Regions from separate parts of the Homo sapiens genome. Here region 2 is linked to region 1. A link means that fine-mapping ties the variant in region 1 to the expression of a gene that starts in the linked region. Tissue or cell type: sun-exposed skin. Region 1 holds a variant in brackets; the other region holds the start of a gene. All regions are shown on one strand. Distances are from middle to middle. Region 1 overlaps KRABD3 (KRAB domain containing 3). Region 2 holds the start of KRABD3 (KRAB domain containing 3).

What was found. PIP is the estimated chance that this variant, and not a neighbour inherited with it, causes the effect.
Region 2: KRABD3 starts here. The variant in region 1 is fine-mapped to the expression of KRABD3 in sun-exposed skin (GTEx, PIP above 0.99). The same link has a PIP of 0.9 or more in unexposed skin.

What each region holds. Positions count from the first base shown.
Region 1 is chr7:149,732,255-149,737,616 of GRCh38, forward strand. It overlaps KRABD3 (KRAB domain containing 3), which reads left to right. Exons shown (of 17, transcript NM_001290187.2): 17 at 952-2,321. The coding sequence ends at 1,793. Among named protein-coding and RNA genes, the nearest start is that of KRABD3, 20 kb to the left of the region's middle. RefSeq lists an enhancer at 2,807-3,723. The variant T/C (reference allele first, on the strand shown) is at 2,939.
Region 2 is chr7:149,712,454-149,717,815 of GRCh38, forward strand. KRABD3 (KRAB domain containing 3) reads left to right here and starts at 2,498. Exons shown (of 17, transcript NM_001290187.2): 1 at 2,498-2,613. The coding sequence starts at 2,602. RefSeq lists silencers at 1,025-1,319, 2,146-2,585 and enhancers at 1,651-2,150, 2,788-3,420.

The sequences.
Region 1 (5,362 bases):
CCACTTTGCTGTGAGCTCTGAGCTGCCTGGGGCCACCGAGCCTTGCCTGTCCTCTGTAGAAGTCCTAGCTGGGGTCTCCAGGCCGAGATCCTTATTGATGAACTTGACCAAACAGCGGTTGGGTCCTTTAGCTACTCCAGTCTTCACTTTTTCCTCGGTTTAAAGCCCTGGAGGTGCCGAAAAGAGCAGGGCAGAGCCACAGCTGGGGGCCCAGAGAAACAGGGAAGAAACCATCTCTGCGCCCGGCCTGGGGCTGAACAGGTTAGGAATGGCAGGTGCCTGGCCAAGCCTTTCCTGTGGTTTGCCCAGGGTTGGGACCAATTCCAAGGGAATTTAGGGCGAAGGATTAGGTGATCTTTTTTTAAAAAAAACAAAAAGCTTATGACTCCTATGAATCTGTAACTTCTCAATAGGGAGAGTAAAAGCAGAAGGGGGTGGGAACCCTTGTGGTTTGCCTGTAACGAAGAGCACTGAGTTCTGGAGTGGCCCCAGGGTCACCCCACAAAAAATGCGCAGAAGGCCCTTGGCTTGCCTGGCCCTCCTGGCCCATCTCCTGGTGCTCCCACGGCCTTGGCCTCATGCTGTCTCGGGGGCTCTGGACCCTTCTCACTGACTCCTAGGGCAGGGTGCCATTTGGTCTCATCAACAACACAAAGACCCACCGATTCCTAGAAGGTGGGAAGACCGCAGTTTAGGAAAGCCTGGTTACCACGGAAACCCAACCTGTGGTTGATCCTGCCCATCAGTTTGGGGAACAGCCAGGAGACATAGCCAGTTTTCATGCCATAAGCATTGGCATCTGCGTTCTCAGGCCTCACCCACCTTCCTTCCTTTCTGGAAGCTGGGCCTTGGAGGAGGCAGAGTACTGAGCGCCCTTGGTTCATGGGACCTCTGGGGAGAGAAAGGTCCTTACAAACCAGGAACTCTGACCGGTCCTTGCTCTGGTTTTAGCCAAGACCCATGAGAGGCTGCTCCCCCAGGGCCCGCCTGAGCTGCCCAGTGAGTCTCCCCCTCCGGAGCTGCCCCCTCCGGAAGCTGCGCCTCCTGTGTTGCCAGCCTCCTCCCTGCAGCCGCCATGCCACTGTGGGAAGCCCCTGCAGCAGGAGCTGCACAGCCTCGGTGCTGCCCTTGCGGAGAAGCTGGATCGGCTCGCCACAGCGCTGGCAGGCCTGGCTCAGGAAGTGGCCACCATGAGGACCCAGGTGAATCGGCTGGGGAGGCGCCCCCAAGGCCCTGGGCCAATGGGCCAAGCTTCCTGGATGTGGACCCTCCCACGGGGACCTCGCTGGGCTCATGGCCCTGGTCACAGACATCTGCCCTACTGGAGGCAGAAGGGACCCACGAGGCCTAAACCAAAGATCCTGCGTGGCCAGGGAGAGAGCTGCAGGGCTGGTGACCTGCAAGGACTCTCCAGAGGGACCGCTCGCCGGGCACGTCCGCTGCCTCCAGACGCTCCCCCGGCAGAACCTCCTGGGCTCCACTGCAGCTCTTCCCAGCAGCTGCTGTCCTCTACACCCAGCTGCCATGCTGCGCCGCCTGCACACCCCCTCCTCGCACATACCGGGGGCCACCAGAGCCCCCTTCCCCCTTTAGTGCCTGCTGCCTTACCCCTGCAGGGAGCCTCTCCTCCTGCAGCCAGTGCAGATGCAGACGTGCCGACCTCAGGAGTGGCACCAGACGGGATCCCAGAGCGGCCCAAGGAGCCGAGCAGCCTGCTGGGAGGAGTGCAGAGGGCCCTCCAGGAAGAACTGTGGGGTGGGGAGCACAGGGACCCGAGATGGGGGGCGCATTGATGGCATTCCTCTTCTCCACATCTGCTCGTTCTTGCCGAGGGTGCAGTGGTGGCGTGGAAGCCCTGTCACCCCACCCCAGGCCACCCTCTCCCAGAGGACGCCATCTCCCTTACTGTTGCTGGGAGCCTCGCCCTTTGTCCCAACTGGGTAGAGCCCCCAGGTGCTGTTTGCTCAGGAGGCTGCTGTGGGGGTGCCTTCCTCAGCCTCTGGCCCTCTTGGCTCAGATTCAATCAAATGTTGCTTCCCTCTCCTGTCTTTCCCACTGGAGCCGCCCAAGCTTGTAGGTGGGTGGTGTGCATAGGCCACGTGTGCCCCACATATGCAGGGGGTGCCCCACACAGCTAGAGCGGCCAGGAGAGCGCCTCCTAACCACCAGCCGTTCCTGATCTCAGGAGCCTTGAAGGGCTGGGCTCTTGCCTTCCTGGAGTAAATATTGGCACAGATTTCATTTGAGAGAACTCAGCCCCCTGGTCTAAGCTGGACTTACCTCTGTGGATTCTGAAATTAAAGAAGTGAGTTGCTAAGGAAGGCCCTGACTCCTATAGAAGGGAGGTCCATGTGGGCCCACGCTGGGGCGGGGCTGGTTGTGCCACCAGCACGCTGCCTCGTCTCCCAGACATCCTCGAGAACATTCAGGAGTGTGCCAGGAAGGGTGGGGCAATTCCCACAGGACTCCTGGGGCACACTCTGAGTCCCCTGGGGCTGCCTCACAGAGGAACCCTGCCTGGGCAGCTTCAACAGCAGCACATATTGTCTCTGTCCTGGAGGCCAGAAGTCTACAATCCAGGTGTCAGGTTCAGTTCCTGCTTTGGGCTGGGAGGGAGGATCGGTCCCGGACCTCTCCCCTTGACCTGTAGATGGCTGTCTTCCTGTTCAGATGGTGTTTTCTACACAGCTGTCTCCAGATTTCCCCTTCATATCAGGGCAGCAGTTGTATGGGGTTATGACCCACCCTAATGACTTCATTTTAACCTGATTACCTCTCTAAACACCCCCTCTCCAAGTGAGGTCACATTTGGAGGTACTGGAGGTTAGGCCTTCACCATACACATTTGGGGAGGGGCACAGTTCAGCCTGTAACACACCAAACGGGCTGGGCCAGTCTTCCTGGTTTTGTCTTGGGAAAAGACATGACCAGGTATCAC[T/C]AGCCCACTTCTGTCCTGGTTACCGGAATGTGCCTGCTCCCAGCCCGCTCAGCTGGCGCTTGGCAATGCGTTGGAACCAGCCTGCCTGTCATTCCCTTGCATCATCTTCCCAAGAGGCAGAATGCAACCTGTGTGCCCCCAAATCCCTTATTTGACCTGAGGTGGTTTCAGGACCTGTATGTGCACCTGTTGACTGGCAGGGCCAGCCTGGTGTGGACTGGCAGGGCCAGCCTGGTGTGGACTGGCACACTTGGCCCTGTCCTCAGGTCCCTGAGGAGCCTGGGACACCAGCACTGTGGCCTGGGGCAATGCTGGCTGCCCACCATGACTACAGGAGCAGTGCCTTGTGGCTGCAGCGCCCAGTGTGTCCCTCAAGTCAGGGTCACTGGGGACACACTCGGGGCCTAAGTGCCCTGCAGCTGAGCTTGGGAGCTGAAGCCCTTGCTCTTTGCCACCCTGTAGAAGCAGCAGGGCAAGGACACCTGTCAGAGGGGAATGCCCGCAACAGACTGAACATCACAAAGGGATGGGAAGATGCTTTCAGGACTAGAGTGAGCCCCGAGGTGACTGTCTGGAAACAGATCCTAAGACCATACAAGTAGGATGTTTGTTGAAATACGGAGGCTGTTCGCTCACAGCCGTGCTTGCACAGAATCAGGAAGGGAAAGTTTCTAGGTTGCTCCTGCCTGAGGAGCTCTCCTTCTAATAAGCAGGGAGCAGTGCCGGGCACGTTTCAGAGCCACGGCAAGGGGTGGGACACAGTTTCAGAGGGGGGTTGAGAAGCGAAACTGCCCCTGCCCTGACTCTGGCTGTGAGGAGAGGACTCTTGCCCACCCCTGCTGCAGCTGGTGCAGTCCCATCGTGCCTGCCTGTCCTCCCATTCTCCTTTCCCTTCTAAGCAGGGGTCACTGGGCTGTCGACTCAATGGGAGGGGGGGTCACCTTACACTTCTGTGTGGCACATTAAGGTGGTTTTGCTTTGCTGGCTTCCGAAACAGCCACCACGCAAACCCTAGTTGACAGGCACGACTGAACAAATGAGCATGGTGGCTGTAAGTGACTGTCACAGTTAGGCAGCCTTCAACCAGCAGAGCTAGGAAGAGAGCTCGAGCCCTCACCAGTGCCGCCAGCACTCGGCGCATCCTCACCCTGGGCACAGATGCCCCCTCCCAGCCTTTGCCTGCTGGGACAGACCAGGGTATTCAGGACTGAGCCTGGTCTAGGTGGTCCAGACCCAGTTGGACCATATAATAAGTTTAAAGTTGTTTTAAGAATGTGGATTCTAAGTAATAAGTGGTAAGAAGTTCCATGGTCTGCAGCTGCGTTCCTCCTGCAGAAGCAGTTCCCTAGGTCTAGGTCTCCAGGACCTGTCCACAGTCACTGAAACGCCTTCTAGAATTGATCTAGTGGAAAATCTAGATGCAGTTTAGGTCTTTGGCACTGTGCCCATCTCCTTTAAGAACTGTGCAGTGTGGCTTGGAAGAGGAAATGTGGTCCCTTTGATGGGAGAAACTGAAGGACCTTTTTGAACTCAAAGGAGCTCCAGGGTTTGGAATTGGGGGCAGAGAAGGCTCCAGGCTGCTCATTCCATCCTGGGTGAGCCGAACGGGTCCTGGCTGATCTGAGTGCGACCTTCCCAGTCTGCCAGCCAGAGTCCCCCAGCAGGCAGGAACATGTGAAGGTTCCGCTTCAAAATATGAATGAATGGGCTCCTCGTGCCCCTATTATTTTCTGGCCACCCCCAGGGGTCCTGATGGAAGGGAGGCTGGCCTGCGGGGTGCAAGAACCACGATTCACTGCTCCCCGCTGAAGGTGCTTGGTCAAGAGCAGCAGGCATGCTGTTAACCTTTGTGCGGGTTTGTGTTTTGGATGTGGCTCCTATGCACAACCTATGGATTTTATCTCATAAACCATCTTGACAGATTTTGCTCGTCAACTGGGAGCCCTTAATCCATTTAAATGTAATTGACTGACTGATTTATTGAGGCTTTAACAGACTTTCTTACTTTGTGCTTTTTGTTTGTCCCACCTCTTCCGAGGGGGCTTCTCTTCCCTGCCTTATTTTGTATTAACACTGTTGTGGGTTAAAAAAAAAATCCATTTTTTCCTCTGCTGGCCTCAAAATGTAAAGAACTAAAAGGAGAAACACCCAAATTCACAATCATATTTGGGAGGTTTTAGCATATCTTTCTCTGAAAATGATGGAACAAATTGGGAGGGATGTAGAAGATTCGAACAAACTCCTTAACAAAATTGGCCTGATTGAGGCCCGTATAGGACAGTACACCATGGGGCCGGGTGCGGTGGCTCACACATGTAATCCCAGCACTTTGGGAGGCCGAGGCGGATGGATCACTTGAGGCCAGGAGTTCCAGACCAGCCTGGCCAACACAGTGAAACTCTGTCTCTACAAAAAATACAAAAA
Region 2 (5,362 bases), 20 kb before region 1:
TTTTTTTTTTTTTTTTTTGAGACAGGGTCTTGCTCTGTCACCCAGGCTGGAGTGCTGTGGTGTGATCTTGGCTCACTGCAACCCCCCTCTGCCTCCTGGGCTCAAGAGATTCTCCCACCTCAGCCTTCCAAGCAGCTGGGACTACAGGGGTACACCACTGCACCTGGCTAATTTTTGCATTTTTTGTAGAGATGGGGTTTCATCATGTTGCCTAGGCTGGTTTGGAACTCCCAGGCCCAAGCAATTCACCAGCCTTGGCCTCCCAAAGTGCTGGGATTACAGGTGTGAGCCACCGTGCCTGGCCCCAGCCAAGGAATTTTTAAAGATGTGTTTCAGCTCCACTCCTGCCTTTGTCTGTGTCCAGAGCCATCCAATAAACCTGGTTCAGGACAGGTCTTCACAACTATTTTTTAACGCACACACACGGGCTGAGGTAAATACAGGTCTACAGGGTCAAAGGCGCAACTAAAATTTGGGGGATAGGGGTGCCAGGAAGTGTCTCCATAATTTAAATAATTGGCCATGCAGCAAATTTCATGTTGGTGAACTGCTTTTAGCGACTGATGGTCCACAAATGGGGCAGGAAGCCTAGCCAGGAAGTGGACGTTTGAGTCAAAGAGGTGCCAAGAATCTGCACAGCTTAAAACAAAGGTGCATCTTACTTGGATAGAGATTTCTTTCTACAGGTGTTTAAGTTTAAGGCAGGGGTCCCCAGTCCCTGGGCTATGGACCAGTACCAGTCCTGGCCTGTTAGGAGCTGGGCAGTGCAGCAGGAGGTGAGCTGCGGGCAAGCCAGGGAAAGCTTTATCTGTAGTTACAGCCACTCCCCCTTGCTCGCATTACCCCTGAGCTCTGCCTCCTGTCAGATCTGCAGGTGCTGGATTCTCATAGGAGCCAGAACCCTGTTGTGAATGCGGGATCCAGGTTGCGGGCTCCTTAGGAGAATCTAATGCCTGGTGATCTGAGTTGGAACAGTTTCATCCCAAAACAACCCCCCTCCCAGTCCATGCAAAAATTCCCTTCCACAAAACCGGGCTCTGGCCCAAAAGGTTGGGGACCCCTGATTTAGGGGGTTTTAACGTTTAGGGATCCCGGGCCGGAGGGTGGGCGGTGGAGAGGAGCTGGGAGCAGGAACACATTACTGTAAGGAGCCCGCCTCACCTCGGCACGGAGGTGGGACCCGGCCTAAAGCCCAGGAGGCGACTTACCCTGAGGGCTGTGGCCTGTAGGGCTCTTGAAAAGTTGGACTTTTAAGTTTTCCCTTTCCGCGAGGTGGGGCCTTGTGATATCTTCAAATCCTTGTTCAGCAGGCTGCGCACACGCCGGTCCTGTGTCTAAGGTGTCTCGGGTATGACCGAGGGGGCTTTGCCCGAGTGGGCGTGCGCCTTTCCTCGGAGGCCGGGACGAGGGGTTGTCGGCATCGTACCCGAGTCCGTGATCATGGCCGGCGCGGCTGCAAGGGCCAGCCCCGGGCGACTGGGCGAGGAATTCCCTTTCCTTCCCTCCGATATTGCCCAGGCAGAGCGCTGTCTGGGCCGCAAGGTCTGGACGGGGCTTCCAAACTCAGAGCAGAGTCTCCTCTGCGTGGGACCACAGCCTCCCCTTCCCCTCCAAGCTTCTGTCTGGCACAGCAGGCTTAGCCCCGCAGGCCCCCTTCCAGCAGCCTTCTATAAAAATGACGGGGTCCTTCTCCAGACAGGAAAACCAGGCTCGCTGCGCCTCGCCCGCACCCCCGGAGCGCTCTCGCAGCGCCCGCCCAGACCAGGCCTTCGAACTCGTGAAGCGCAGGGGGAGGCAGAGGAGAGTGGGCCGCGCTTCCTTCCCGCATCACACGTTTATTTGAGGCCTACTATGTGCCAGGAACAACTGGGGTTACCACCCCAGCAAACAGGCACGCAAAATGTGACACGAAGGTAGGTCATGGCTGCGGCGAGCGGGGGCGCGGGCGAAAGACGTGAGGATGTACGGGGGCCTGGCAGCTGCTCTGTCCCACCCACGCCCGGCCGGACCCTCGACCCCTTTCACTCCAGGTCGGGTTTCCCCGACCGCGGCCTCTGGGAAAGATGGGTCCCTCTTCATCCCCACCATCAGCCCCTGGCACATGGGACGCGCTGAGTGGTGGCTGCGGGAATGAATGAGTGATAAGCGGCGCGTACCCGCGGGCTTGCACGCCCACAGCCGCCCCGGCTGGTCTCGGCGCGCAACCTCTACCCGCAGCTGGGGGCGGGGACGAGGGGAGGGGGCGGGGACGAGGCCCGAGCCAGGTCCGCCCCGCCCTGTCTCCGCCCCCCGCTTCCGAGCCGGCGCCGCGGCGCCTTCTGGGAAGTGTAGTCCGCGTCTGCGCCGGCCGGCCGGGCCGCCGAAGCCGGGGGCTCCGGGCGGAAACGGCACCACCCACCAAGGGATGCGAGGCGCTCGGGGCGGGCTCAACGAGGCCGGGGGCGGGCCCGGGCGCGCCCACCCCCGCCCCTCCCCCTCGGCCCAGGCCCCCGGCCCCGCCTTCTCCTGCGCGGACCTGGGCCGCCGCCGACGAGGGTCGCGTGCGCCCGCGCCAGGGCCCGCGCCGGAAACCGAGGAGTGGCGGGGAGGCTGAGCCCGGGGATGGCGCGCCAGGTAAGGCAGGCGGACGCGCGGACCCCTCGGCGCAGTGCGGCCCCGAAGGCGGTAGGGCGAGAAAGAGCTGGGACCCCCCCGCAACTTCGGGATCGGCTGGGTGAGGCTGGGCAGGCCTGATGCTCAGGGGTTCGTGCCGGGAAGTTCAGGTCCTCGGACAACCTCTCTCCAGCTCTCCGCCGCCGGTACCCACGGCCCAGTCTCCACCTGGGGAAACCCCCTTGGCGTGGCTTGTTTCGTTACAAGTTATCCTGGTAGAGTGGGCATGAAGGCCTCGGAGGCAGTGAGTAAATCTCATACTTCTGTTCTTGGTGGAATCCTGGATCCCGGGGGCTGGGGACGTGGAAATGGGGAGAAACAAAGATAGAACAAACCCCAAGTTTTGTCTTGGGAAGCCTGCAGGTAAGGCGTTTAGATCTGAGAACTGGAGGGAGAGCCCCAGGCCGTGACAGCCTGGGCACCGTTTGGGCTAGGTTGTGTGTGGGCTGTGACGATGCTGGGAAACTCTGGTGCTGATATCAGTGAGGTATCAGGTATCTGGTGCTGATACCAGCAACTGCTCCACGTTCTTCTGGATGGGCACCTGGAGCCAGTTCTGCAACCGTGGTGGCTCCTGAGCTTTGGCCAGTCCGAGGCAGCCATGGATGGGGGGCAGCGTGTGACTAGGCAGAGCAAACACTGTGCCAGGCCCTTGGCGTCATTAGTGCCCCCAAGCATTTGGGGAGAAGGGAGAGGCTAGGCAAATTGGATGTTGTTGGGCAGGGACAGTCAAGTGTCCTTTTCAGGTCTGGCTGCACAGTTAAGTAGCCTAGGGACACCCTGGTTCAGACATGCCCATGGCCCCATCCTAAGGCCTCCTCATACCACAGTTTCCTGTTCTGTAAAGTGAGGAGTTTGGGCCATTGACCTTTCAGATCTGATGAGGGGAATATCCTCACACTACGTAGCTTCATGGAGAAGGTGGCCAGGAGTGACCTTGGGGAGTGGTAGGTCACTGTAAGGTGGAGAGGAGCAGGGAGGGTTCCCAGAAGCCCAGGGCAATGTGAGCACAGCCTCCAGGTTGAGAGGTCCTGTGGCAGGGTCTGATCAGGGAGCCCGAGCCTGAGGCCCACTGGGAGAGCAGGTCTAGGTTGGGAAGGACTGTGAGAGAGGGGCAGGTCCAGCAGGCACTGAAGCTGCAGTTTTTGTGCTGGGCTAGTGACACGGTGGAAGGGTGATGTTAGGAGGACCAGTGTGCAGCTATGAGCTAGGAGGCTGCCCAGTTACAAGAGTCCTGGGTCAGCCCAGAAAGCTTTTCTCCATTGGTTGGGGGAAGGAGGTGAAGTGGGGCCCGAGGAGGAAGGCCGGTGGTGTGTGGGCAGAGCCAGCCAGTGGTGGCCTTCCTCCTCCCGAAGATGAGTTTTGTAGCCCAGGTGTTTGCACACTCACACTTGCTCACTCCCTCACACACAAAACCCTCACTCTTTGCTTTTTCTGGGGAGAGGGAGGCCACTGGCAGAAGCGCCTACCCTGGCCACAGTCAGTTCCCATTCTCATTTTCTAAGAATTTTATCACAAAACAGTTTGTCTTGAGGCTGAGATGGTGAGAGGCCTGGAAAGCATCTCTTACAGATTCCTGGAAGAGCTGGGATATATTTAGTCTGGAGCGAGAGAGACACCGGTGGTCAGGAGCAGTATGTGGAAGAGCTCAGCTGGCAGGCTCAGACCTGCAAGCGGGCATTAGGCAGACAGGTCTGGCTGCAGTATTACTAATCATAGCACTTAATATTCATAGTCCCCGCATTTGTTCTAGGCACTATTCCTGTATTTGTTTTGTCTTCACAATACCTCTATGAGGTAGGTTGTTATGATCCCAGTATTACAGATGAGTTCACTGAGGCCCAAATAGGTTAGGTTTGGCTGAGGTCTCATAACTAGTATGAAACAAGGCAGGGATTGGAATTCTGGCAGCCTGGCTCCTGAGGCTAGGCCCCAGTCACCGTGCTCTGCCCCGGTCTCTGGGTCCGGAACCTCTTAATGGCCACATCAGGTCAGCAGTGGTACCAGTGCAACCAACATAGCTGGTATCATGTTCTTACCTAGAGCTCAGACCTGCCTTGCCAGCTCTGTGTTGAGCCATCAGAATGTCATGTGGGAACCCTCTGCCTGCCATGAACCAAAATTCCAGACTCCCAGAAGGAAAGCAGGGGTGTGGCACACACCACGTCATTTGCTCAGCCTAGGCACCTTGAGCCACTCCCATCATTTAGGGAATGGTGGGAAGCCTCCTGACACCTAAATACCTGGAAGCCAGCCTGAGCCCTCCTGGCAAGCAGGCCTTCCTAAGGACAGCGGTCTAGGGCTGCTCTGCACGCTCTTCTGCATAGACCCTGATGTTGGCTACATTTTCTCTGTTCCAAGATGCTAGGAAGAAATGTAAATAACTCTTTGAGAGAAGTTTTGGAGGGTGTCTGAGACTGTTCCTGAGAGGGAGTGACCATACCTGGGCCAGAGCCACAGAGGTTTGCTCAGGGAGAGTCTGCACATCGAGGCAGGAGGCAAAGGCTGCAGCATCTCACTGCCCATCAGCCTCTGGGCCTCCGGGCCTCAGGCAGGCAGTCACGGGAGGGGCTGCCCCTTGCCAGGGGTGTAGATGCAGCCTGGCCAGAGGGGAGCACTGGTAAGTGTGACTGCATGGGACAAGTTATCAGCTGTTCAGGGAGAACAGGCAGAGAGCCCGGCAGTAAGTGGACAACAAGGCTGCCGGTTA